Linked DNA regions of Homo sapiens. The protein of the gene in region 1 interacts with the protein of each later gene in a pairwise test. Each region holds a gene or a part of one and is shown on either strand. Other genes may lie near its edges.

Region 1 (3,085 bases):
TAGTTTGGTTTGGCTTTCTTTACTGTGGTAGCATTTACCAATTTCTTCAGTTCTGCCTAATCTTAGTTTGCATATAATATTGTCAGCTCTTACAAATATATGTAGATAGTTTTCTAAAATGAAAAAGAAATGGGCTGGTCACAGGAGGTGGGGACTTGGGATGGATGGTTTTAGCAGCATCTGAATGGAGTAGGCAGCTCTTGTATTCCTAATGTACTTTCACACACTGTAGCTTTAAAACAGAAGCAAGTTGCTGTGTTGTTGCCAACCAGATAGCAAAGTGGATAATATTCTTGGTTAACACCAGGGCAAGGTACTTTTTATACTTGGCAGTTTAGTTCTTTTATAAAATCCAGTTTGAAAGGTGTATCAGCAAATTATCTTGAAAAAGCTATCAAATAATTGCCTTATGAATGTAATCAGAACCTCTTTCAATTATAAATCTTTAAGTAAAACATGGAAACAATAATGGAAAAAATAAAGAACTCTTCAGACAGATGTAATTGTATATGATAGTTTTATTGGCATTTTAAACTACTTTGTAGTTGTTAAAGTATTTTACATTCTACTTTCTTTGTAGGGAAAGTTAAGCATAATTCTGATTTTTTTTTAATCTAAAAGTCCCATTTGGCACCCAAAAGTTCCATTTCATATGCATTACTCAGTTATTTACACATAATCCTTCAGATTGTGTGTGGAATTGTTCTCGAGCTGTGTGTTAGAGATAGGCTGCTGTGTGGGTGGGTCGAGTCTAGCTTCTGGATTCCTTTTTATACAGGAGGTGCAGAAAATCATGCCAGAGATAAACAACAGCATTGCAGAAATGAATCCGATATAGATAGCTCCTCCAGGTTCATGTTTGTTGCTTTCTGGAACTGTCAGATCCAGAAAGTTTGCTATGATCTCCTTTGTGTACCACACTGTCGAGATTAAACTAGAGATTCCTGCAGACATGAAACAGACTCCTCCAGCAAAGGAAGCATGGCTCTTGGTTTCTCTGTCCCCTCCTAAGCGAGTACATTTCATTCCTACTGTGGAAGTGCAGATCCCCAAAGCAGACAGAACACACGCCAGGACCATGGTGGCTCTCGCAGCCTGCACGTGGATGGGGAGGGACAGAATGGAGTGTTTCAGGGCACAGCTGAACATCCCAGTGCTGTACCACGTACAGTCCATCCAGAGCCCGTGCAGCTGTACAATGGCTGTTATGATGTTGGAGTCCACATCCACATTCACCTTCCAGTTGGGCAGCAGAGTGGCTGTGAGCACTCCAGAGACCCCAGATAAGGCCAGGATGAAAGCAAGGAGCTGGAGTCCTGCTGAGGCCATGATGTTACTGTTAAGTCTGTCCTCTTAGAAAATCCTGATGTTTAACAATGATGGCTGTCAGAATTCTATCTATTTCTGTGCAGTAGAGAACCAAATAACAAAGCCTAAGGAAAAAAGGCAAAACCAGGATTGAGCGAAAGAAAGTAAGTAAACAAAAGGCTTCCCTTTAGAGTAGGAGCCAAGAACACATCTGAGTATCCCCCTTCTCCAGCCCCCAAGCAGATGAGGATGCTGTAGGCTGGAGGAGAAAAGCTCCCACCAGGCCTTGAAGACTGGTCTGAGTGATATGCATGGGTGGTGTTGATACAGGGCATAAAGAAAGCAGTTGCCCACTTAATTCTTTTTAAAACTCAACATATGCTGAAACTGTAGCGTGGACATGTACGTTGTTAGGAGATTTAGACATTTGAAATTCCAGCTATAGTATCTGATAAAGAATTTTAATAGCATTATAGGTTTTTCAAATGATTTTATTTTTTATTTTTATTTTTTTTGAGATGGAGTCTCACTCTGTCACCCAGGCTGGAGTGCAGTGGAGCGATCTTGGCTCACTGCAAGCTCCACCTCCTGGGTTCACACCATTCTCCTGCCTCAGCCTCCCGAGTAGCTGGGACTACAGGCGCCCGCCACCATGCCCGGCTAATTTTTTTTTTTTTTGTATTTTTAGTAGAGATGGGGTTTCACCCTGTTAGCCAGGATGGTCTCGATCTCCTGACCTCGTGATCCGCCCACCTCGGCCTCCCGAAGTGCTGGGATTACAGGCGTGAGCCACCACGCCTCGCCCAAATGATTTTATTTTTAATGAAAATACTCAATACATAATAAGGAAGAAAATAAATTAAGGCCACCTTTTAAAGATGGTTTATAAATACATTTTAGAAAAGTATTTAGGAAGTGGCTTTCATAAACAGATCTTTATGACACACCCACAGTGCCAGGCACATAGCCCAAGTGAACCATTTGAGGAGGAAGGACAGCAGTGGAAAGAAGTCTGAGTCACTGGCATGGTTATCCCTAAGTTCTAGTTAATACCTGTTTGCAAAATCCTGACTGAGGTTAGTACTTGTTTTACTTCAGGTGCCTGGTACTCAAAACAATTAAGCCACTGTTTTTTGTATATAAGAACATGAGGTCCTTTCTAATTGGGACCAGAATCATTTCCTGGCCCAAATGAAGCCGGCTATTCTGAACAATTCAGAAGTAGTGATGGCAGATCTCAAAAATACATACCAGAAATAACCACATCATTAGTTGTATGTGAAAGGATACCAGAAATAAATTAACCCTTTATTTTCTTTGTTTATTTTTAAGAGGAAGGAAAAGACCACCTACTTTGTGGCTTGGCTGTGTTTTAAGAAACAAAAAGGCTTTCGATTCCATCTTTCTATTCCTGTTCCCCTATCTAGCCCATCTGGCACTGCTTACTGCCTTATTTGAGAAAAATGTAATGGTTTCTGAAATACTGCAGTACTGACTTTCTTTGTCATTCTGAGTTAATTTTGAATGGTATGCTAAAGTGGCTCTGTCGTGATTCATATGTATTTTACAAAAGGTGATACAGGCTCTTGAGTCAAAGACACTTGGGCCAGTTCTTAGCTTTATACCTCTCTGTGCCTCAGTATCCTCTTCTGGAAAATGGGGAGGATTGAAATACTTCGTTCATAGGGTTAAATAAGTTAATACATTTTAAGGGCTTAGACCAATATTTAAGCCACAGAAAGTCCTCAGTAATTTAAAATTGACATCATTATTAGTA
Region 2 (2,787 bases), on another chromosome or scaffold:
GTGTCTCCTATTATGAGCCACTACAAATCTTTCTGAAAGAAGACAGAGTATAGAAACAAAACAGCTCCATGGTGAGAAGTAACACAGACCATTCACCTTCTACATCCAGTTGCATTTGCAGGACGGCTGTGCGATTAGATTAGCGTCTGCAGCCTGCCATCCAAGGCTTGCCTCTCTGGATGAGGGTCACTAGTCTTCTCAGGAATGAAGCCAAAGCCAGGCCCAAGCAGCCGAAAGGTAACTCTATCCCTAACAACAGTTACCTGGTCGGTAAAAAGGGCATTGGCCAAGAGGAAGCCTTCTCCCAAAATCATCACCTCAAATTCTCCAGTTTTATACCATAAACCTCAGAGTAAAAGTCTGCATTTTGTTTTCCACAGAATTTTTAGCAGCATGATGCCTTTTTGAAAATTTGCCTTTTCTTCCTATCAGTTTTCCAACCATATGTAGACAAATTCAGCTGTAATGGTTGAAATGAGAGAGCCAGTTAAGTGAGACACTCAAGTTGTCGCTGCATTTTAATAAACATAGCACACAATGTGTTGCTACACAAACACCATTCATAAACCTGAGTCACAGGTTTCAGATGGGAGCTGGGGACGTGTATAAATAGCCTGTGTATGTTAAACAGTAGAAAAGAAAAGAAGTTTGGGGAATAAGGTCAAAATCATTGTGCCCAATTTAAACATCATAAAAATCTCAGCCTTGTCATTATTTACAACCCCCAGCATAACTCCCACCCAAAAGAGAATGCCAAACGGAAAATTCTAAATAAGATGATGTCCTCACGTCGACCTAAACAGTACAAATGATGCAGCATCATAAAACAAAGTTATAATTATGTTGTCTCACTTCCTGGCTGCCGGATGCCCACGGTACAGAGCAGCCACTCCACAGGATTTTCTGAGCTCTGAGCTGTCTGGGGTTTTTGTAAGAACATAGCTTTGACTAGCATTGACCAATTGATTTGCATTTAAAGACTCTGTGATGGTTTGAGGTGGCAAAAGAAGAATACAACTTGTGTGGTGGAGAACTAACACCTTGATCATGTTGCAAACGTTTCAAAAATGCATTTTTCCTATATTCACCCCTCCTCAGCTGAAAATAGCCCAGCAGGCTCAAGGCTGGTTGCAGCTGAAGACAAATCCCACACACCCTCCAGCCCCTCCCATTTGAGAAAAAGGGCATGGCCATGGCTTGGAAGAAAGGCAACAAGAGTCTTGGGCAGCCAAGACATTCTCGAGGCTTTCAACAGGTCCCTGCAGACTTGGCCTTGACTCTGGGTCATTCTGTTCCTTAGCAAGCACCTTGTGGCCTTCCAGCCTCCGCTCCCAGGAACTCATTTGAACTTGCAAGGTGCTGTTCAATGAAGTGGATTCAGGAAGCAGCAATTCTCTCTCAGGAGAGGTCTAGTGTTTCGTCACCTACTCCCCCACACCACTGATGCTCAGAAGGGCTCTAGGACCCCGTGTGTGGAATTCGAATGCCAAAGATTGACAAACAGGGTGACACAGACACGCAGGGTTAACTCGGCTCCCAGCTGCTGCGTGATTCCAGCTCCCATTCAGTCTGACTGCCTGCCGGGTCTATTTCTCACGTATCCTCATTCTGGTCCCTCCTCCAGTCACCAGCAGAAATGCACCTCTCCGTCTCAGGCCTCTCCCATCTCAGTCTCTGATGATGTGCATGGTCTTTGCGTTAAGAGCTCACTAAAGTGTAGATCATGCTGAATGCAAAAAAAAAAAAAAAAAAAAAAAAAGAGAGGAAGGTGTTAGTAGAAGCCCACAGAGGACTCAGGCTGCCCCTCAGGAGAGGGACCTTCCAGAGGCCAGACCCCTTGGCTTCTCCCTCATTCCTGTCACTACAGCATCTCGCCAACTCCACTACTGTGCCCCTTCTACTTCCCACAACACTGGAATAAAAATTTTTTGGGAGAGCATATTGTATCCCTTGGATAAAAGATGTGAAAGCTCTAAGTGCCTATTATCATTCTCATCAGGATGATGATTATGGTTGTTTTCCTTTTTGTGCAATTGCAGGGCAGGTCTGGGGGTGGAGGTGGGGGTGCAGTGGATTCTTTATGCCACCAGCTGCCATGTGCTTGCATGATGGCTGTGTCCAGGGGCTCCCAGATGATGCTGGATAATACGGTAGTGCTGGGGGAAAGATCATCATCACTACTGCAAAGGCCAGCGTGGGAACATAAGCCCTCTGGGCACCAGAACTCAATGAATTCTTGATTGGGTAACTCCCTGGCCCTCTTATTTTTAATGGACTCCAGGAATTAAACATGCATTAAAAGTGTGTGACCTAAAGTATTGCCCCAATACTACTAAGAGTGGGGTGAAGGGGACATGTATCCCTGTGCGCTTAGTAAGGGCTTCAGGGTAATTTTGCAAGGCTGAGGAATGATCTGCACCAAAATATACCTCTTTGTCTATTTCGCAGAAAAAGAAACCAACTATCTTTTCACATTATAGTGAGAAAAAAAGATTCATCTAAGAAGTAAAACCAAAGGAAAGAAATGAAAAGGTTTGACTTCTAACCCTTTGCAGCTGTGGATGCCCAATGAGCTCCTCTGAGTAGCTCAAGTTCCATCTTCAGGAACCTCACACACCTCATGTACACAGAGAACCACTGGTCAGACCTGGAGCAAGAGGGACTTACTCTACTTGGGGAAGCTGAGGGCCAGATGAGGAGTGACAGCAGGGCGAGAAGCCACATTCTAACTCCAAAGCCAGTGCTTTTTGCATAACAGTACTAAGCCTCAAGTGGATACCTTTGTTT

Evidence for each region. The genes of interacting proteins can lie anywhere in the genome.
Region 2: the proteins of CLDN20 (region 1) and CNIH3 interact in binary tests that used the Homo sapiens proteins (3 or more experiments, as listed by UniProt).

What each region holds. Positions count from the first base shown.
Region 1 is NC_000006.12:155,273,964-155,277,048, reverse strand, and holds the end of CLDN20 (claudin-20 precursor), read right to left. Parts: intron 1,434-3,085; 5' UTR 1,330-1,433; coding exon 670-1,329; 3' UTR 501-669; downstream 1-500. UniProt on the Homo sapiens protein: Plays a major role in tight junction-specific obliteration of the intercellular space, through calcium-independent cell-adhesion activity.
Region 2 is NC_000001.11:224,738,268-224,741,054, reverse strand, and holds the end of CNIH3 (protein cornichon homolog 3), read right to left. Parts: intron 1,727-2,787; coding exon 1,699-1,726; 3' UTR 501-1,698; downstream 1-500. UniProt on the Homo sapiens protein: Regulates the trafficking and gating properties of AMPA-selective glutamate receptors (AMPARs).